5 separate regions of the Homo sapiens genome follow, and all the other regions are linked to region 3. Evidence: fine-mapped expression QTL. A gene starts in region 3. Each other region holds a variant in brackets. All regions are shown on one strand. Distances are between the middles of the regions. Region 1 overlaps CATIP-AS2 (CATIP antisense RNA 2). Region 2 holds the start of LOC105373881 (a long non-coding RNA gene). Region 3 holds the start of PNKD (PNKD metallo-beta-lactamase domain containing). Region 4 holds the start of LOC105373880 (a long non-coding RNA gene). Region 5 overlaps PNKD (PNKD metallo-beta-lactamase domain containing).

The links.
Region 1: its variant is fine-mapped to the expression of PNKD in whole blood (INTERVAL, PIP above 0.99).
Region 2: its variant is fine-mapped to the expression of PNKD in monocytes (TOPMed, PIP above 0.99). The same link has a PIP of 0.9 or more in whole blood.
Region 4: its variant is fine-mapped to the expression of PNKD in whole blood (TOPMed, PIP above 0.99). The same link has a PIP of 0.9 or more in blood mononuclear cells, monocytes, monocytes after LPS and monocytes after Pam3CSK4.
Region 5: its variant is fine-mapped to the expression of PNKD in whole blood (TOPMed, PIP above 0.99).

The regions. Positions count from the first base shown.
Region 1 is chr2:218,349,920-218,354,098 of GRCh38, reverse strand. It overlaps CATIP-AS2 (CATIP antisense RNA 2), which reads left to right. Exons shown (of 4, transcript NR_125777.1): 2 at 2,873-2,939. It also overlaps the pseudogene RPL19P5. Among named protein-coding and RNA genes, the nearest start is that of CATIP, 4.8 kb to the left of the region's middle. The variant G/A (reference allele first, on the strand shown) is at 1,649.
Region 2 is chr2:218,320,864-218,325,042 of GRCh38, reverse strand. All of the region lies in intron 2 of PNKD (PNKD metallo-beta-lactamase domain containing), which reads right to left. LOC105373881 (a long non-coding RNA gene) reads left to right here and starts at 3,005. Exons shown (of 3, transcript XR_923914.3): 1 at 3,005-3,044. RefSeq lists an enhancer at 1,570-2,165 and a silencer at 1,648-2,167. The variant A/G (reference allele first, on the strand shown) is at 2,399.
Region 3 is chr2:218,268,144-218,272,322 of GRCh38, reverse strand. PNKD (PNKD metallo-beta-lactamase domain containing) reads right to left here and starts at 1,804. Exons shown (of 10, transcript NM_015488.5): 1 at 1,721-1,804; 2 at 774-942. The coding sequence starts at 1,787. AAMP (angio associated migratory cell protein) reads left to right here and starts at 2,186. Exons shown (of 11, transcript NM_001087.5): 1 at 2,186-2,357; 2 at 2,789-2,941. The coding sequence starts at 2,237. RefSeq lists enhancers at 1,510-1,559, 1,590-1,969, 2,120-2,439, 3,008-3,893.
Region 4 is chr2:218,314,187-218,318,365 of GRCh38, reverse strand. The region is part of intron 2 of PNKD (PNKD metallo-beta-lactamase domain containing); the gene reads right to left. All of the region lies in intron 1 of LOC105373881 (a long non-coding RNA gene), which reads left to right. LOC105373880 (a long non-coding RNA gene) reads right to left here and starts at 1,616. Exons shown (of 2, transcript XR_923909.3): 1 at 1,483-1,616; 2 at 1-411. The variant G/C (reference allele first, on the strand shown) is at 1,739.
Region 5 is chr2:218,335,354-218,339,532 of GRCh38, reverse strand. The region is part of intron 2 of PNKD (PNKD metallo-beta-lactamase domain containing); the gene reads right to left. The region is part of intron 2 of CATIP-AS2 (CATIP antisense RNA 2); the gene reads left to right. Among named protein-coding and RNA genes, the nearest start is that of MIR6810, 4.5 kb to the left of the region's middle. The variant C/T (reference allele first, on the strand shown) is at 1,772.

The sequences.
Region 1 (4,179 bases), 82 kb before region 3:
CTTCTAAAGCCTGAGCATATTTATGGCTGCGGCTGCAGCAGCGAAAGGAAAGAACTCTGTTATTTCAGGTTCTTAAAATGTTTAAAATTGGTATATTAGAGTGCTTAAAAGATACGTCTGCAGATTCAAGTTTAAATTGGGTTATTGAATAATTGATTTTGAATTTTAAAGTTTCTTATTGAGATTGCAAGTAGAACCAGAACATTAAAAAAAATAAAATTAAGATTTACTGTATTTATATGTTTACTTTTATTAGGTTGCAGTAAAGGTATTTGGGAGGCTGGTTTATCAATCAATCGCTTTAAAAAAGGAAATAAAATATATTGGATGAACAACTGCAGTATAAGCTGCCTAAAGCAGTTTTAATTTTGAAAAGAAGACCAACCAATTATTAATTAAAGCCCCCTTGGCTGGGTGCAGGGGCTTACACCTGTAATCCCATGGGAGGCCAAGGTGGGTGGATGATTTGAAGCCAGGAGTTGAAGACCAGCCTGGGCAACATAGTGAGACCCTGTTTCTAAAAAATGTTAACATTCACTAGATTTATGATGAGAATTATATGACTGGTAAGTTGAACTTAAAAGTTTTAAAAATACTTTTGTTTGTTTGTTTGAGACAGTCTCGCTCTGTCCCCCAGGCTGGAGTGCAGTGGCTCAATCTCGGCTCACTGCAAGCTCTGCCTCCCGGGTTCACGCCATTCTCCTGCCTCTCAGCCTCCTGAGTAACTGGGACTACAGGCGCCTGCCACCACACCTGGCTAATTTTTTTGTATTTTTAGTAGAGACAGGGTTTCACCACGTTAGCCAGGATGGTCTTGATCTCCTGACCTCGTGATCCGCCCGCCTCAGCCTCCCAAAGTGCTGGGATTACAGGCGTGAGCCACCGTGCCCAGCCAATACTTATGTTTTAAAATTTATATTTTCCTATTCAACATAGTATTGGAAGTTCTGGCCAGAGCAGTCAGGCAAGAGAAAGAAAAAAAGGGCATTCAAATAAGAAGAGAGGAAGTCAAACTATCCCTGTTTGAAGATGACATGATCCTATATCTAGAAAACCCCATCATCTCAGCCCAAAAGCTTCTTAAGCTCATTAGCAACTTCAGCAAAGTCTCAGGATACAAAATCAACGTGCAAAAATCGCTAGCATTCCTATATACCAACAACAGGCAAGCAGAGAGCCAATTCATGAACGAACTCCCATTCACTATTGCCACAAAAAGAATAAACTACCTAGGAATACAGCTAACAAGGAAAGTGAAAGATCTCTACAAGGATAACTACAAACCACTGTGCAGAGGACTCAGAGATGACACAAACAAATGGAAAACCATTCCACGCTCATGGATAGGAAGAATCAATATCATAAAATGGCCATACTAGTCAAAGCAATTTATAGATTCAGTGCTGTCCCCATTAAACTACAATTGTCATTCTTCACAAAACTAGAAAAAACTATTTTAAAATTAATATCAGATGAAAAAAGAGCCCAAATAGCTAAAGCAATCCTAAGCAAAAAGAATAAAGCTGCATCCATCACGCTACCTGACTTCAAACTACACTACAGGGCCACAGTAACCAAACAGCATGGTACTGGTAAAAGAACAGACACATAACTTTGTAACAGGTCTGGAAGCTCTGAGTTTATCTTG[G/A]GACCTCAAGAGAGGATCACCCAACTCACAGGTGTTAGAGGATACAAACCCATGGCTGGGCTTGGCTTTAAAAGTCTTATCTGAAATTCCTTGTGAAACAGAGTTTCATTAAAGCCAATGCAAAAGGCCTATGTAAGTAAAAATAACCATTCTTGCTGCACTTTACGCAAATAATCAGGCCAAGTATAAGATTGTAGGATATAATAAATTCCTCTTCAAAGGTTTTAGCCTATAAATTGTTAAGCACAATGAGTTCTGAGATCCTCTTCAAAGAACCAATGTATCAGTATATTCAGCTCTCCTGTTCTTTGTTCTTCATTTTAAAGTTTCTCGTTCTTTACATCTCCTTGCCCCTAGTTACAGTAAACAACCCCCTCCTAGCCTCTATCACCTGCTCTGAACTTAGTCACCCTTGGTCACCTGCTCTGTTGTTAGTCATCCTGAGTCACCTGTTCTGTAACCATCCTTCCTGCCAAACTACCTATCCCACCACTCTGGCTCATACCCCTGCTCTCTTTAAAATAGCCAATCAGAATTAGCTTAGACTGTGTGGTCCAACCCTAGCCAATAGGGGAAAGACACAGCAGTAGGGACTAGCTGAGTTAGGATAAGAACCCCTTCCCCTCCCTTGTTCAGGTGTGCTCTCGCCATTGCTCCATCCGTGAGACACACCCTTGTATGGAAGTAAAATTGCCTTGCTGAGAAAATTAAATTTATGTTTGAGTGCTATTTCTTTTCTTTTTTCTTTTTTTTTTTTTTTTTGAGATGGAGTTTCACTCTGTGGCCCAGGCTGGAGTGCAGTGGTGCGATCTCGGCTCACTGCAAGCTCTGCCTCCCAGGTTCACACCATTCTCCTGCCTCAGCCTCCTGAGTAGATGGGACTATGGGCGCCCACCACCACGCCTGGCTAATTTTTTGTGTTTTTAGTAGAGACGGGGTTTCACCGTGTTAGCCAGGATGGCCTTGATCTCCTGACCTTGTGATCTGCCCACATCGGCCTCCCAGATTGCTGGGATTACAGGTGTGAGCCACCGCACCTGGTCTTGAGTGCTATTTCTTTTGCAGCCCTGATAATTTATTTCTAAAAGGACTAAAGTTTATTCATAATTAGTGCTTACCAAAAATGAGGACTGAAGAGAAAAATTTTGATCCAAAGCTTATCATACATTTGTCATTAAATCCTAGTTTCATTAATTGTTTTTAAACTTTTTGCTTACATTTTAGACTAACCCTGCTTATTCCTGTGAATCAAGAGGTGATCTTCTGCAGCTTGGAAAAAAAAAAGCGATGGGTAAGGTAAAAAGGTGAATCAATACTCTAGTTCTGGGCAATTATCTTGCAAATTTTGCCAGGTAAAGAAAGTGAGTAAGGTGCTCATAACCGGGAGGTTTCTTTGTTTGGGAAAATAAAACCAAGGAACTTCAGAGACCCTAAAAGGGGAATTCTATATCTTGGCAAGTAAAAAATTTTTTTTGAGACAGAATTTCACTCTTGTTGCCCAGGCTGGAGTGTAATGGCACAATCTTGGCTCACTGCAATCTCCGCCTCCCAGGTTCAAGCAATTCTCCTGCCTCAGCCTTCTGAGTAGCTGGGATTACAGGCATGCACCACCATGCCCCGCTAATTTTTTGTATTTTTTTGTAGAGACGGGGTTTCTCCATGTTGGTCAGGCTGGTCTTGAACTCCCGACCTTAGGTGACCTGCCCACCTTGGCCTCCGAAAGTGCTGGGATTGCAGGCTTAAGCCACCGCGTCCGGCCGGCAAGTAAAATATTAGGTGGAAATTATCTACCACACTACACTTGTGGAAATTGCTGTCCTCACTCTACTATTTGCAATAGTGTTATACACAGTAGCACCTTCTAACTAAAATATTGGACAGTTTCCATTGCTGTCCTATTTTGCTTAATTATTATCCTTATAACCGGGATAATAGTTATTGACAAAAAGGAAGCATAAAAGTTTTACTATCACTAAGTCAGCTAGGACTTTTTAATTGGGTTTAGTGATGCACTTTTTTTGGTGGGGGATGGAGTTTTGCTGTCTTGCCCAGGCTGGAGTGCAGTGGTGCAATCTTGACTCACTGCAAGCTCTGCCTTCCGGGTTCACACCATTCTCCTGCCTCAGCCTCCTGAGTAGCTGGGACCACAGGTGCCCGCCAGCACGCCTGGCCAATTTTTTGTATTTGTTTAGTAGAGACAGGGTTTCACTGTGTTACCCAGGATGGTCTCGATCTCCTGACCTCATGATACGCCCGCCTCGGCCTCCCAAAATGCTGGGATTACAGGCATGAGCCACCGCACCTGGCCCTAGTGATGCACTTTTAAATGAAACATGCTGCTTTTGGATTAACACCTAGTAAAGTAAAGGAAAATCTACAGGTACCTAAAGATAAAATCAAAATTATTAACAGGCTCAGGGAAAATGCCAGCTTCAGCCCTCAGTGGCTACAATCCCTCTTTAATAAATTACAGTCTTCTTTATGGAATGGTTAATCCGTTTATTAAGCCCTCTCTTGCTTATATGTCTTGT
Region 2 (4,179 bases), 53 kb before region 3:
GAGCGAGACTCCGTCTCAAAAAAAAAAAAAAAAAAAAAAAAAAAAGAAAATTATTTAGATACCTTCATGTTTGGGATTTTTTTTTCTTTTTCTTTTTTTTGTTTTTTGAGACGGAGTCTCACTCTGTCGCCCAGGCTGGAGTGCAATGGCTGCGATCTCGGCTTACTGCAACCTCCCTCTCCCGGCTTCAAGCAATTTTCCTGCCTCAGCCTCCTGAGTAGCTGGGATTACAGGCGCTTACCACCGTGCCCAGCTAATTTTTGTATTTTTAGTAGAGATGGCGTTTCACCATGTTGGCCAGGCTGGTCTCGAATTCCTGACCTCAGGAGAGCCACCTGCCTCAGCCTCCCAAAGTGCTGGGATTACAGGCGTGAGCCACCGCACCTGGCCTAAATATTTTTCAATCTCATTATTTTAATGCAACGTGCAGAGCAATGGTAACTTACTTGGCACATTATCTAAACTGCGACCAAGGTTTAGGATATTAGAGATGTGAATGCCCCAAAAGGCACAAACACAAGATCCCCACCCCACCCTCCAGCACCATGTTTTTCTAGTTATCCTGCCTTTATATCTGCATTTCTTAGACTGTGAGTGGAATCCTGCGCCTGAAGCTTCTGGGCGTGTGGGGTGGTCTGGGGAGGAGAGGGTGAATTGCACAATGTCTGCTCGGAAGCTCGGGAAATTCCCAGGCTTAGGCTCTCCCCACAACCTGGCCTGTGGCCAGGGCTCTCACAATTCCCATCCCCAACATTACTGTCCCTAAACTGGGGCTTGAGGTCCTGACCCATGGCCAGGCTGGTAGTAGGAAGGGGACAGGGGGCCTCGGAGGCCTGTCTTCTTCCCTGCCTCTCAGTGTCCCTGGGGCTGAACAGTGCTTGCTAGGCACCACCCTCCCCTGGGGCCAGGAAGGAAGGGGTAGAGGGAGGCAGGAGGGCAGAGTGAGCGGGGGAGGGTCGACGGAGACAAATCACTGGAAAAGTGGGCAGAGTCAGTTGGGTCAGATTTCACAGCCTGGGGCTTCCACACGGGCCAGGCTTTGGTTAGAAGGAAAGGGACATACTGGAATCCAACAGGGTTGGGACTCTTGCTTGGGACAGAAGAACCTAACTTGACTGGTGAGGAGTTGGATGCTGGGGAGTGGGACAAGGACATACGAAAGGAGTTGGCGGTTTTAAATGTCAGACGGTGGGAGGCATTCCTTCTCTCCGGCACTTGCCATCGGAGCCCGGGCATCTGCTGACCTCACCCCCGGACAGGGACGGTCTTCCCAGCCCTGGCTCCTGCACTATCCCCCTGTCCAGCTTCCTGGTCTCCAGCCCATTCTGTGGCACTTTGCTCCAGATGTCCTCTCACGCCCTCCTTCCGTGGCCACCCTGGCCCGCCTCTCCGATCCTCCTTCCCCAGCTTATCCCAATTGTCCAGCCCCCCAAATCCCTCAGGCCCCCCAACTCAGTGGCTTCTCCAGTCCGTCTCCTCGATCCCTCTTCCCTTAGACCAAGCCCCTTCCTAACCGCCACGCCCACCCCCAGCTCCAGCCCCCGCCTCCCAGTCCCCTCTCCCAGCGCGCCCGCCTCCCGAGCCCGCACGCTTCGGAGCCCGGGCACTAACCCGATTCGGAAGAGCAGCCGCTGGCTGTGCGCCATGAGCAGACCGCGGAGGCCCCGCCGCGCTCGGCAGCCGCGGGGGCTCACAAGTAGGACGAGGACAAGGACGAGGAGGAGCCAGCAGCCGGCGACCCACTGCCACGCCGCGGGCCAGCCCTGCCAAGCCATGCTGGGGGCAGGCACGCGCCGGCCGGGCGGGGCTCGGCGTTGCTAGGCAACGGCCCGGCCCCGGCCCCCCGCGGGGAACCTGCCTGCCGGCTCTGGACGTGGGGGCGTTGTGGCCCCGCCCCGCCCATTGACCTCTCCTTTGGACCCGCCCCCTCACCACCTCCAGCCGGGCAAGCACCCCGAAGGCCACCCGGCTTGGGGGGCGGCCTGGCTCCGCCCGGCTGGCGGCCAGGAGGCGGGGCCACAGCGGGCCGCGAGCCTGCGCTGATCGGGGTCCACAGTCGCCTGAGCCCTGGGAAGGGGCAGGAGCTCGCAGTTCGCCCCGCCCGCCTCCCCGTCCAGGGCACTGCTACACTTTCTCAACTGGCAGAAACCTGAGAGATCATCGGGGTCAGCTGCCATTCATGGATTTATTCATTCGCCGAATTACTTTTCTAGCTCCTCCTATGTACTTGGCACTCTGCCAGGCTCTGAGGAGGATGCAAGGGTCAAAGGCACACTGTCTGCATTCCTGGAGCCCACAGTCCGGAATCTAGTGAGGCGACGAACCAAATAAGCGAGCAAACAAAATTATATCTGTTTATGCATACACATACATATGCGCGTGATAAATTGCGAAAGGA[A/G]GTCAAGGAGGGGGCAATGATATGGAGCACAGAGAGGGCCAACTTAGATGGGGGAGGGCCTCCCCAGCGGACGACATAAGTCCTGCCCTGAAGGATAGGAAGAGGCCACACAAGCTCTGGAGGAGCAACATGACCTAGGATATGTAGCCATGGGTGGCACAGAGGGGCCTAGGGCTGGGGCATTCCCACTCCCAAACCCAGGGCGATTTCCACATCACCGTTCCCAGCTCCCTCACTGCTGCCCTCCTGATGGATTCTAGAAGTTGTTAAGGTCCCTGGAATGGAAGCAGGTGTGAGGACAGGCGTGGTGGTGGTGAAATCTACAAATTTAGGCACAGGAGCCAGGGCTGGGCTTGTTTTGGCTCCAGCCCTAGCTCTGGCCCAGGACAGGAAGGGAAGGAAATGCTCTAAAGAGTCAAGCTCGGCCAGGCGCGGTGGCTCACGCCTGTAATCCCAGCACTTTGGGAGGCCGAGGGGGGCGGATCACGTGAGGTCGGGAGTTGGAGACCAGCTTGACCAACATGGAGAAACCACGTCTTTACTAAAAATACAAAATTAGCCAGGCATGGTGGCGCCTGCCTGTAATCCTAGCTACTCGGGAGGCTGAGACAGGAGAATCGCTTGAACCCAGGAGGCAGAAGTTGCGGTGAGTCGAGATCGTGCCATTGCACTCTAGAGCAAGACTCCGGCTCAAAAAAAAAAAAAAAAAAGAGTCAAGCTCGGCCGGGAGCGGTGGCTCACGCTTAATCCCAGCACTTTGGGAGGCTGAGGCCTGCGGATCGCTAGGTCAAGAGATCGAGACCATCCTGGCTAACACGGTGAAACCCCATCTCTACTAAAAATACAAAATTAGCCTGGCATGGTGGCATGCACATGTAGTCCCAGCTACTCGGGAGCCTGAGGCAAGAGAATCGCTTGAACCCGGGAGGTGGAGGTTGCAGTGAGCTGAGATTGTGCCACGGCACTCCAGCCTAGGTGACAGGGGTGAGACTCCGTCTCAAAAAAAAAAAAAAAAAAAAAAGTCAAGCTCACCTTTGCTGCTGCTGGGAGGTTCTGGGAGGGAGATGGGTGAGGGATATGTTAAATTATCTTCAAACTGAATTGTAATTCCAATACCTGAATCTGGGTTTAATCCAGAAAACCCAGACAGACCTGGAGTTTCTTCTATGTGGGTACATCTTGAGGGACAGAGCCTATGGCCTGCTCCCTCCCTGTCTCCTCGCCTGTAATTAGGTTGCTTCTCAGTGCCTGGCATATAAAGGGCTGGTACCGCAGAGGAGACAGAGGAGTGAGAAAACTGATAAGCCAATTTGCAGATGACCCTTGTAGGATGCAGGAGTTTGCATCTCCGTGTCTGTGTCTGTACATGCAAAGTGAAGGATCATGGAGGCATCATCAAAAGTCATTGTGCACACAACTTTCTGCAGGTAAGGCTGTGCCAGGTAAGGCTATATCAGGCATTCTATCAAGAAATTAAAATGCAGTCCTGTAATCTGAAACAGGAAATGCATGCTCAAGCATGAGCTTGTAGAGAACACAGAGATGACCAAATTCTAAATCTCAAGCCAGACAATTAACAAGATTATAGATAATAAATCCAAGATATGTTTGATGAAACATATGGAGTCAAGGCGGGACTGGGAAAAGGAGTGAGGGTGAGTGTTTTAGGGGAGTCATGCAGGCCCAGGGAGCCATAACCCCACCCTTAGACTGTTCTGGAAGACTTCTAATGTCTGCTGCAAGTGGGCTTTAGTTTCACTTCCTCTGCCATAAGAATTTTC
Region 3 (4,179 bases):
GGGTCTCTGCCTGCCTCTTTCCTCCTCCCGCCTAGAGCCTGATCCTCAGCACGAGCCCTGCATTCCTGCAACAGCACCTGTGCAGGATTTTCCAGGCAGCCCTGACGCTTTCCCTCTCTGAGACTTGGCCAAGGTACCCTCCCAGTTTTCCCCTCTTAAGCTAAGTAACCACTGCTTGGGAGGCACTTTGGTATGGGGGAAAGAGCATGGAGTCACAGACTAGGTGAGAATCCTAGCTCAGTCTCAGTTCCTTCCTCTGTGAAATGGGGATGTAATACTTATCTCAAACACTAAAACATTACATGGCAAAGTACTGGCACACCTCACATGCAGAAAAAAATGTTGATTTCTTCCTCCTTTCTCTTTAATATTGGTCAATAATATGTATTAAGGTCAGAGTCAGAGCCCAATCACAATGTTCATAACGCCTTCTGAGTACTACTATACAACTAGTACAAGCTCACATGATCTCAACGAACTACTTACTTAAACTTGGGTCTCACTCCAAGCTCCCAAAAGGGAGGATGAGGCCAGGGACCCAAGTCTGAATCAGATCAACTCAGCTTACTCCACAGTAAACCCACTGTCTTCTCAATTCCACATACTTTCCCACCTCCACTGCCCCACCCCTCTGAGATTCCAATCGAACCCAACAATTCTGTTCCCACAACTTTGGATTCAGCTCGCCACCTGAAACTTGGAGAAGTTTCTAAGTCCTGCCCTCCCCTACAAGCCACGCCCCGTTGGTGGGCAAAGGGGTGGTTAAAACTCACCAGGCCAGTCCCACAGCTTTCATGGGGTTCTTGCCCCTCTTTCTGGGAATGTATTCCAGCTCCGGGGATAGGGGTTCAGGTTCCTCCTTGCCCTCTGGGGAGCTGTGGCTTTGCAGGGCCCGGGTCCTGTTATGAGAAGCCTTGTTAGCTGTGGCTCCTGCGAGAATCCCTGTGGATGGAGGTAAGGAAGGTCAGTAAGAAGAGATGAGAAGAAAGCAAGCGGGGAGGTGGGGGGCAGTAAGGGCTTGGGAGGAGCGGCTGAGATCTGGGGAAGGGGAGTGACTGCAGTCTGAAGTAAGAAGTGCCAAGGAGAATCCAAAGGGAAATGGGAAAATCGCCACCGAGGTGGCACCTTTGGAAGCCACTTCCACGTCACTGCGGGCTCATCACCCTGGTGCCAGGACGAAAAGCTTCGCTGTTCTTCCTCAGACGACAGCATGGGAAGGACTGCAGTGGGACTCACATAAGACGTATGAAGGAAATCCGGGAAAAGGTTTTGAAACTGCAAATGTTAGCACTGGAAGGGACCTTAAAGATAGTCTACTCCATCCCTTGCACTGTACGGAAGAGGAAACTGAAGCCCTGAGAGAAAAACTGCTTTGCCCAAGGTCAAACTGCTAATTATCCGGGGCTGGAACTCAAACCTCCAGAAGCCCGGGGCTCTTTCCTCTGCACTGCGGTGAGTGTGAAACACCTGGAGCGCGGGAGTCCAACAGGCTTCCTAGGAGCTCCCTCTTGCAGCAAGACCCCGGAGGTGTCGAGCAACCCGAAGGCGGGGGGATGCACTGGGTGACCTCTAAAGAGCATCTCTGCACCCCCAGACTCTAAGATCTTGCAGAAAAGTGTGGGGAGGAACCAAGAGCCCTGACCTCCTGCTATCGTCGGGCTGGACGTGAAAGAAAAGGGATCTTCTGCAGTCCTGCCCTCCCCGGGGTCCCTCTCCTTACCCCGGAGGACGCGGGCATTTCTCGCCCCCCGGCCCTTCAGCGCCGTAGCAGCTACCACCGCCGCCATGTTCAGATCCCACCCCCGCTTCACCGCGCTCCCCGCCGGGAATTGTAGTTTGCGTAAGGGGCCTCCCCCGCTCCTTCCGTCCTGCCTACAGACCAGAAACTACATCTCCCAGAAGCCCGCAGAGCGGACCCAGGAGAACTACTCTTCCCAGGAGACCCCGGAGGCGCGCGCGCTCGCTTGTTTCCCTCCAGTTGGGGGCGGAGTCAGGTGGGGCGGAGTTTGGGTTCTCTCCGCCACGCCCCGGCCCCATCTTCCAATGCCGCTCTGTGATTGGTGAGGCGGCCAGCCAACCTTCGTAGCTATTGGCCGAACGGCCGTCGCTCTTCCTGCTGGGGAGTCGCCTACGCCTACTTCCTGCCGGGAGGAGGGGCTCGAGTTCCGCGTCGTCGCGCAGAGCTGACTCTGGGAGGCGTTTGGGCCCAGAGAAGTGGATCCGCCGCTTGCGCCGCATGGAGTCCGAATCGGAAAGCGGGGCTGCTGCTGACACCCCCCCACTGGAGACCCTAAGCTTCCATGGTGATGAAGAGATTATCGAGGTGGTAGAACTTGATCCCGGTCCGCCGGACCCAGGTGAGAACTGCCGCTCCTCAGGCCATGGGACAGGAGACGCTCACCCCTGGCCTCTGACTCCTGCTTTTCCCCGCTCCCCTCCACACCCGACTGGTCATTCCTACCGATATCCCTCTTCCCCTCCTCCCCCACTCCCACCCTCACACTTAGTTCTCAGGCCTGGCTGGGGTGGGGGTTCCCTGACGCCTCCTCTGGCCCTTCCCCTCACACACCCCCTTCCCATCATCCCCTTGGCCCTCCCTTACCGCACGGTCTCTGGCCAGCCGTGGCCTCCCGTCCTGTGTCCCGCGCGCCCCCGCGGACCCCGGTGTGTCTGACTCCACCTTCCCTTCTCGCCACATGACCCGCCCCAGCCTCAGGCCTCCTCATGCTTCTCTCCGTACCTCTTACCGCCTCCCGAGCCCCATCTTCTAACCCTCTCCCCAAAGCAGATGACCTGGCCCAGGAGATGGAAGATGTGGACTTTGAGGAAGAAGAGGAGGAAGAGGGCAACGAAGAGGGCTGGGTTCTAGAACCCCAGGAAGGGGTGGTCGGCAGCATGGAGGGCCCCGACGATAGCGAGGTCACCTTTGCATTGCACTCAGGTAGGTCTTTGAGGCGATCCACCTCAAATCAGTTTAGGTGGGCGTGTAAGCATTAAACATCAGCCATGGACAGAACGTTATGGGGGACACAGAGATGGGCAAGATGCTGGCCTTGCGCTGGAGGAGCCCACAGGTGGGAAAGTGTGGCAGAATGGATGATTGCTTGGCTTCTGGCATCAGTCGAGACACCCTCTACTTTGCCAGTTAACCTTGATTAACCTCTTAGTTTTCTTTTAAAAAGTTATCTTTGGCCGGGCGTGGTGGCTCACTCCTGAAATCCCAGCACTTTAGGAGGCTGAGGCAGGTGGATCACTTGAGGTCAGGAGTTCGAGACCAGCCTGGCCAACATGGCAAAACCCAGTCTCTACTAAAAATACAAAAATTTGGCTGGGCATGGTGGCTCACGCCTGTAATCCCAGCACTTTAGGAGGCCCAGGCAGGCGGATCACAAGGTCGGGAGTTCCAGACCAGCCTGGCCAATATGGTGAAACCCCGTCTCTACTAAAAATACAAAAATTAGCTGGGCGTGGTAGCGGGCGCCTGTAGTCCCAGCTCCTCGGGAGGTTGAGGCAGGAGAATTGCTTGAACCCGGGAGGCGGAGGTTGCAGTGGACCAAGACTGCGCCATTGCACTCCAGCCTGGGCAACAGAATGAGAGTCTGTCTCCAAAAAAAAAAAAAAAAAAAAAGTTATCTTTGATAAAAGTTAATAAAAGTAGTGAGTATAAAATTAGAGATAATTGGCCAGGTGCGGTGGCTCATGCCTGTAATCACAGCACTTTGGAAGGCCAAGGCGGGTGGATCACCTGAGGTCGGGAGTTCAAGACCAGCCTGGCCGACATGGTGAAACCTCATCTCTACTAAAAATAAAAAAAAAATTAGCTGGGTGTGGTGGCATGTGCCTGTAATCCCAGCTACTCCGGAGGCTGAGGAAGGAGAATCACTTGAACCTGGGAGGCAGAGGTTGCATTGAGCTGAGATTGTGCCACTGCGCTTCGGCCTGGGCGACAGAGCAAGATTCCATCTCAAAAAAATAAAATAAAATGAGAGATAATTATATCTTTTTGAGCATATTTTATATAACTTTCTCAAGTGCTAGTTCTTAGTAAGAAACTGTTGCCAGGCACGGTGGCTCATGCCTGTAATCCCAGCACTTTGGGAGGCCGAGGCGGGTGGATCAGAAGGTTAGGAGTTCGAGACCAGCCTGACCAACATGATGAAACCCCATCTCTACTAAAAA
Region 4 (4,179 bases), 46 kb before region 3:
TTGGCCGTGACTTCTCCCCTGAGCAGCTTGAGGCGCACTGCCAAGGCTAAAGTTTGCCTCTGCCACTCTCTTAGGAGAGACACCTTCATAACCCGAGTCGGGTGCCTGGCGATCATGCAGGTCTGGCCTGTGATGTGGGTTCCTGGGTTGGGGTGGGGGTTCTTGTGTCTCCTCCTTGTTCCACCTGTCATCCCAGGCTGCCTGTCCCTGGTGTCTGAATCTTGCCTTCCCTACTGGCCTGAGAGGTTCCCTTAGAATGGAGAGCCTGCCTCCATCTTTGCACCGTGGCTCACGCTTGATGACTGGTGCTTGGTTGGCATTCAGGAAATCACTGGTGGTGATGATGATGATGATGACAGTGACGATGGTGATGATGACGAAACAATCATGAAGGAGCTGAGATGGTTGGAGCTGTTTAAATGTTAGAGAAAAGAGACATCTTGTCAGACCTGGGTGGAGAAATTAGTTCAGTTTAGAAAAGTGAACCCAGTGCAGAAGTGGTGACTGGGATAATCTGGCCTCTGCTTAGCCCAGTCCATCCCCTCATCTGTTATCCCCAACCAAAGCTCACTTTCCCTCGTGGACCATTTTCTCATGAACTCCTGTCCGAGCCATTTTGCTGTACCCTGCAGAACCCTGGTTTGGTCTGAAACAAATCCTTCCCCAACGTCCTCTGCCTTCTCACAGAGCTCCCAGCCTGTCTGGACTGAATATGATCCCTGTCTTCTATTCCCTACCTTCTCTCTCACTGCCCTGCCTTCTGCAGTGGAAGCCTTTAGTCTCCTACATTGTCTCCAGGTTGGAAAGGAATGCACTAGCAATAGTCCAGGCCAAGGCCATTGCTCTTCCTGACTCATGTACAAACTTCTTTCCACCCCTCCTCATCAGTCCCATACACTGATCAGCCCAGACTCTCTAAGGATTTCAACACCTGTTTTTAGTCTTCCTGCCTGATTCCTGCCATCAGGTAATTCCAACAAGCATGGCTCATTCAACATCATAGCACAGCAGTTTTCAAGTGTTAGGGAGCCTAGGAACCACTCAGGGAGCTTGTAAAAATACGGAATTCTGGTCCGTCCCCCAGAGATTCAAACTTAGTAGGTTTGGCTGGGGCCCAAGAGTGTGCATTTCGCATAGGTGGTTCTGAACTCTGCCTTGACCTCAGTTCCTGACTTCAATTCCAATGCCTTCGACATAATTCAGCAGCTTGCTCACATGGCCACACCCTAGATTCACCTGGAACTTCTCTGCCTCTGAGAACCTAAATTCCAATGTCCTTTTCCCTGATCCCCTCCCATCCCCAGTACACATGGACCTCCAGTTCCAGCTCCTCAGGCAGTTTGTTTTCTTCCAGCCCTTCAGCCCCTCTTGCACCTATATTTGAACTTAGGCTCAATCCCTTGAACTACTTACCACCTGTTAGCTTCCTGATCCCCTGACCCCCTTGACCTCCAGCCTTAACCTACCAACCTTCAGACCTACCTGAACCAACCTGACAGTCTCCTACCTCACGGGCAGGGCTGAAGAAAACTGCTGTGTCATATGACTCAGGGCTGCGATGGTTCAGGCCATCCCAAGTCCCTGATACCAGTGCTTGGCAGTTCCGTTTTGCTGAGGCCCCATCTCATCTGCAGTTGTTATTCCAAACCTCAAGCCCCAACGTCATTTCCTTTACTTTCAACAAATATCCTTCTTAGAGAAAACAATTTCTGTGACTACCTACCCCTCTACATATTTT[G/C]CAATTTTCCTCAGCCTAAGAGCAAATTCCAGCATCTCCCTGCCTTAAAAACTTCCTGGCCGGGCACAGTGGCTCACGCCTGTAATCCCAGCACTTTGGGAGGCCAAGGCAGGCGGATTGCCTGAGCTCAGGAGTTCGAAACCAGCCTGGGCAACAAGGTGAAACCCTGTCTCTACTAAAAATACAAAAAATTAGCTGGATATGGTGGCGGGTGCCTGTAATCCCAGCTACTTGGGAAGCTGAGGCAGGATAATCACTTGAACCTGGGAGGTGGAGGTTGCAGTGAGCTGAGATCGTGCCACTGCACTCCAGCCTGGGTGACAGAGTGAGACTCTGTCTCAAAAAAAAAAAAAAAAAAAGAAAGAAAGAAAAAAATCTTCCCTTGACCTTGTGCCATTTTCTAGACTCCATTCTGCCTTTATCTCAACACAATCTAGTTTCCTGAAAGGCTGTCTCCAAAGGTGTGGTAGATGGCATTTCAGTTTCCAGTTATTCATCTCTCACTGTAAACATACCGTTCACCCTGTGACTGTGCATCACTTCAATGGAGGCGAGGTATATTTTCCCACGCCACTGATGTTGCTGGTCTAAGGGAGATGAAAGGCACATGGAGCCACCTGGATCCCACTCACAGCTTGGAAGTCAACCCAGCCCAGCAGAGCCCAAGCTAGATCAGCTAAAGCTCAGCCTGCCCACAGATGCATGAGCAAGATACATGCTTATGATTGTAGGCTTCTGAGTTTTGAACTGGCTTCTTATGCAGCATTACTGCAATAATAGTTAACAGTGACAGAGGGAAACAGAATATTAATGATGCTGGAAAGACATGATGGATGAGTGACTAGCTATTTACAAAAGAGCAATTTAGACTCGTGCCTCACAGAATCCACCAAAATAAATTCTACCCGAATTAAAGGGTTAAGGATATAAAATTAAACCACAGAAAATTAGAAGAAAATGAAAGACATGTTCAATCTGGATAGCAGAGGATTTTCTAAAGCTAAAAATAACAAATGCGTCATTCTAATTTTCCTTAATAGGCGTATGTTATTCTTAAAGGCATTTATTATTCCTATTATTCCTTAAAGGCATACATTATTCAGAAAAAAGCAACAGAAGATCTAACAAGGGAAATAATTACTGTTTTAGTTACTTTAAAATTTAAATCCTTGGCCGGGCGCCATGGCTCATGCCTGGAATCCCAGCACTTTGGGAGGCCGAGGCGGGTGGAGGCCGAGGTGGGTGGATGACGAGGTCAAAGAGATTGAGACCATCCTGGCCAACATGGTGAAACCCCGTCTCTACTAAAAATACAAAAATTAGCTGGGCGTGGTGGCGCGTGCCTGTAGTCCCAGCTACTTGGGAGGCTGGGGCAGGAGAATAGCTTGAACCTGGGAGGCAGAGGTCACAGTGAGCTGAGATCACGCCACTGCACTCCAGCCTGGTGACACAGCAAGACTGTCTCAAAAAAGAAAGAAAGAAGAAAGAAAGAAAGAAAGAAAGAAAGGAAGGAAGGAAGGAAGGAAGGAAGGAGAGAGAGAGAGAGAAAGAAAGGAAGGAAGGAAGGAAGAAAGAAAGAAAGAAAGAAAAAGAAAGAAAGAAAGAAAGAAAGAAAAAGAAAGAAAGAAAGAAAACCTCAGGCGGGCATAGTGGCTCATGCCTGGCATCCCAGCACTTCGGGAGACTGAAGCAGGTGGATCACTTGAGGCCAGGAGTTCAAGGCCAGCCTGTCCAAAGTGGTGAAACCAAGTCTCTGCTAAAAATACAAAAATTAGCAGGGCATGGTGGCAGGCGTCTGTAATCCTAGCTACTTGGGCACTGAGGCACAAGAAATCGCTTGAACCCAGGAGGTGGAGGTTCCAGTAAGCCGAGATCGCCCCATTGCACTCCAGCCTGGGCGACAGAGTGAGACTCTCTCAAAAAGAAAAAAAAAAACGAACTTAAATATACTTGATCTTAGCCAAAAGGCCAAGGAGTGATTACAGACCTTAAATAAATGTGAAAACACAATGACCTCAATTAATAAATTAATAAATGGCTAATAAATATGAAAAAATGTGAAAACTCAAAAGAATCAAGAAAATCCAAGTATAGCCAGGCATGGTGGCTAACTTGCACCCAAAGTACAAGTAATCCCAGCACTTTGGGAGGCCAAGGTGGGAGGATCGCTTGAGCCCAGGAGTTCCAGACCAGCCTGGGCAACAGAGGGAGACCTCATCTCTACAAAAAATTTAAAAAATCAGCCAGGCTTGGTGGTACACGCCTGTGCTTCCAGCTGCTCAGGAGGCTGAGGTAGGAGGATCTCTTGGGCCTGGGAGGTAAAGGCTGCAGTAAACTGTGATCATGTCACTGCACTCCAGCCTGGGAGACAGAGACTCTGTCTCAAAAAAAAAAAAAAAAAAAAAGCCAGGGCGCGGTGGCTCACGCCTGTAATCCCAGCA
Region 5 (4,179 bases), 67 kb before region 3:
TTGGAGAGGCCAGGCGCAGTGGCTCACACCTGTAATCCCAGAACTTTGGGAGGCCGAGGTGGGCGGATCACCTGAGGTCAGGAGTTCGAGACCAGCCTGACTAACATGGCGAAACCCTGTCTCTACTAAAAATACAAAACTTAGTCGGGTGTGGTGGCACACGCTTGTAGTCCCAGCTACTCAGGAGGCTGAGGCAGGAGAATTGGGCATCGCACCACTGCACTGCAGCCCAGGCCAAAGAGTGAGACTCTGTCTAAAAAAAAAGAGAGACTTGGAGAGTGAGGGGTTTAATCTAGCCCAGGGTCTAGCACCTCTGATGAAGTGACATTTGCAGGGAAGAAGGAGTAGGAATTAGGAGGCTGAAATGAGGTAGAAAAAATATTTCAGAAAGAACAGTGGTGGTCAGACTTTAGCATGCATCCTAATCATCTGAAGAAGGTTGGGTACAGTGGCTCACACCTGTAATCCCAGCACCTTGGGAGGGAAGGAGAGAGGATCACTTGAGCCCAGGAGTTCGAGACCAGCCTGGGCAACATTGTGCCCTATAGGGTCTCTACACACACAAAAAAAAGAATAGCTGGGCGTGGTGGCACACGCCTGTGGTCCCAGCTACTCAGGTAGCTGAGGCAGGAGGATTGCTTGAGCCCGGGAGGGTGAAGCTGCAGTAAGCCATGATTGCACCACTGTACTCCAGCCTGGGTGACAAAACAAGACCCTGTCTCAAAAAAAAAAAAAAAAAAATCATCTGAGGCTGGGTGTGGTGTCTCACGCCTGTAATCCCAGCACTTTGGGAGGCCGAGGCAGGTGGATCATCTGAGGTCAGGAGTTCAAGACCAGCCTGACTAACATGGTGAAACCCCGTCTCTACTAAAAATACAAAAATTAGCCGGGTGTGGTGATGGGCACCTGTAATCCCAATTATCTTTTTTGTAGAGATGGGGTCTCAGTTTGTTGTCTAGGCTGGTCTCGAACTCCTGGGCTCAACAAATCCTCCTGCCTTGGCCTCCCAAAGTGTTAGGATTACAGGTGTGAGCCACCGTGTCCCACCTGAAATTCTTTTTTTTTTTTTTTTGAGACAGAGTCTCGCTCTGTTGCCCAGACTGGAGTGCAGTGGTGCAATCTCGGCTCACTGCAACCTCCACCTCCCAGGTTCAAGTGATTCTCCTGCCTCAGCCTCCCGAGTAGCTGGGATTACAGGCTCACACCACCATGCCCGGCAATTTTTTGTATTTTTAGTAGAGACAGGGTTTTGCCACGTTGGCCAGGCTGGTCTCAAACTCCTGACCTTAGGTGATCCGCCTGCCTCGGCCTTTCAAAGTGCTGGGATTACAGGTGTGAGCCACTGTGCCTGGCCAAGCCTGAAATTTTTGTTTGTTTGTTTGTTTTTGAGAGGGAGTCTCACTCTGTCGTCAGGCAGGGGTGCAGTGGTGCAATCTCAGCTCACTGCAACCTCTGCCTCCCAGGTTCAGGCGATTCTCCTGCCTCAGCCTCCTGAGTAGCTGGGACTAGAGGCGTGCACCACCACACCCAGCTAATTTTTGTATTTTTAATAGAGATGGGGTTTCACCATGTGGGCCAGGATGGTCTCGATCTCTTGACCTCGTGATTTGCCCACCTTGGCCTCCCAAAGTGCTGGGATTACAGGGGTGAGCCACCGTGCCCGACCCTGAAATTCTTAATGATTTTATCTTTGACCTTGTGTCTTGCAAGTGGAGCCTGATAGGACAGTGGGACATGCAGGGAGCAAGAGACACACACAGTGAGTGTGCTC[C/T]GTTCCTCGCTTATCATACCTATACAGAGTCTGCAATGCCCATGAGCACACAAATCTGGGGGACACACAACGCATGGGAGTTCAACAAGACTCAAAGCAAGTACAAGGCGAGTGCACACCTATGACTGACCCAAGAGGCCAAGCTTTCAGTTCAAACTAGAACGTGCTTCAAGTGCACAAAGACAGAGGTGTTCTAAGAAACACGAATGACCAAGGAACTCTGCTGCATCCTTTCTTGCTTTTGTGTTATCCACCTATTTATGCTGCAAATAGCGATATAGAAAGGAAAGGGAAGATAGGGTAACCAATCCATCCTTTTCCTTTCCATCCTTCCTTATTAACTAGCAAGCCAACAGTGCTGGCAGAATGTGCACGTATTAAGAATTGAAGGCCGGGCGCGGTGGCTCATGCCTGTAATCTCAGAACTTTGGGAGGCCAAGGCAGGTGGATCACATGGTCAGGAGTTCAAGACCAGCCTGGCCAAGATAGTGAAACCCCATCTCTACTAAAACTACAAAAATTAGCTGGGCGTGGTGGCAGGCGCCTGTAATCCTAGCTACTTGGGAGGCTGAGGTTGTAGTAAGCCGAGATCTCACCACTGCACTCCAGCCTGGGCGACAGAGTGAGACTCCATCTCAATAAAAAAAAAGAAAAGAATTGAAGGCTGGGTGCAGTGGCACACACCTGTAATCCCAGCTCTTTGGAAGGCAGAGGCTGGTAGATCACTTGAGGTCAGGAATTGGAGACCAGCCTGGCCAACATGGTAAAACCCCATCTCTGCTAAAAATACAAAAATTAACAGGGTGTGGTGGTGGGCGCCTGTAATCCCAGCTACTTGGGAGGCTGAGGCAGGAGAATCACTTGAACCTGGGAGGCGGAGGTTGCGGTGAGCCAAGAAGATCACACCATTGCACTCCAGCCTGGGCAACAAGAGTGAAACTCTGTCTGAAAAAAAAAAAAAAAAAAAAAAAAAGAATTGAAGGCCAGGTGTGGTGACTCACTCCTGTAATCCCAGCACTTTCGGAGGTGGTGATGGAAGAAGTGCTTGAGCCCAGGATTTTGAGACCAGACTGGGCAACATGGCGAGACCCTGTCTCTACTAAAAATGCAAAAATTAGGCAGGCATGGTGGCATGCACTTGTGGTCCCAGCTACTTGGGAGGCTGAGGTGGGAGGATCACTTGAACCCAGGAGGTCAAGGCTGCAGTGAGCCATGTTTGCACCACTGCACTCCAGTCTGAGTGACAGAGGAGACCCTCTCCTGGTAAGAACTAAATACACATCCATGTATAAGCTAAGAAATATTAATTATGTCGTTTCTGTGATTCTACAGGAGTTAAATGTCCTTATATTTGTATTTAAAACAGGCATTGCACAATATTAAGCAAATGGTAAAATTCCTGCTAATAATTTAAATGCTTCTTACTTAGAATGACATTAAATAGCAAATTAAAAACATCACAGGTCAAAATAGAGATTGTAGAAGAAAAAAAGCTTCATATTTTAGTACTTTTAATGGCTATTTTTTCCAAACTTTTTTTTTTTTTTTGAGATGGAGTCTCACTCTGTCACCGTGCTGGAGTGCAGTGGCACGATCTTGGCTCACTGCAACCTCTGCCTCCCGGGTTCAAGTGATTCTCTTGCCTCAGCCTCCCGAGTAGCTGGGATTACAGGCACCCACCACCACGCCTGGCTAATTTTTGTACTTTTAGTAGAGACAGGGTTTCACCATGTTGGCCAAGATGGTCTCAATCTCTTGACCTCATGATCAACCCGCCTTGGCCTCCCAAAGTGCTGGGATTACAGACATGAGCCACCACGCCTGGCTGACCCTAAGTCTCTACAAGGATTGACCGTGTATGTGGGAGCAGGGGCAGCCGCTCTTCAGACCCCTAAGGGGAGAGCTAGCTGATTTGTCTGCAAGCAGTTGGGTCAAAACCAAGCAGGTTTCCATGGCAATTTGTAGATATGATTTAGGTAAAGTTTAATCACTGCATTGTCTGCTCTATGTACCCATGGGTTTATATTGATTGGCAATCTGGGCACATGGTTGAAGGGCTTTGCCAACCTTTATTTGTCTTTATGTTCCTTTTTCGTAGGCCTTCTTTTTTTTTTGGTTTTATTTCTAAATTAGATTTGGCCAACTTACATTTCTTCAACAATATTTACTGAATCCTTGCTATTGGCCAGGCACTGAACACACACTGAGCAAGGCAAACTCACTGTCCTTGTGAAGGTTCTATCTAGTAGGACAGACAGGACAATTAACATTTTTTTTTTCCAGATGGAGTTTCACTCTTGTTGCCTGGGCTGGAGTGCAATGGCGTGATCTTGGCTCACCGCAACCTCCACCTCCCAGGTTCAAGCAATTCTCCTGCCTCAGCCTCCCAAGTAGCTGGGATTACAGGC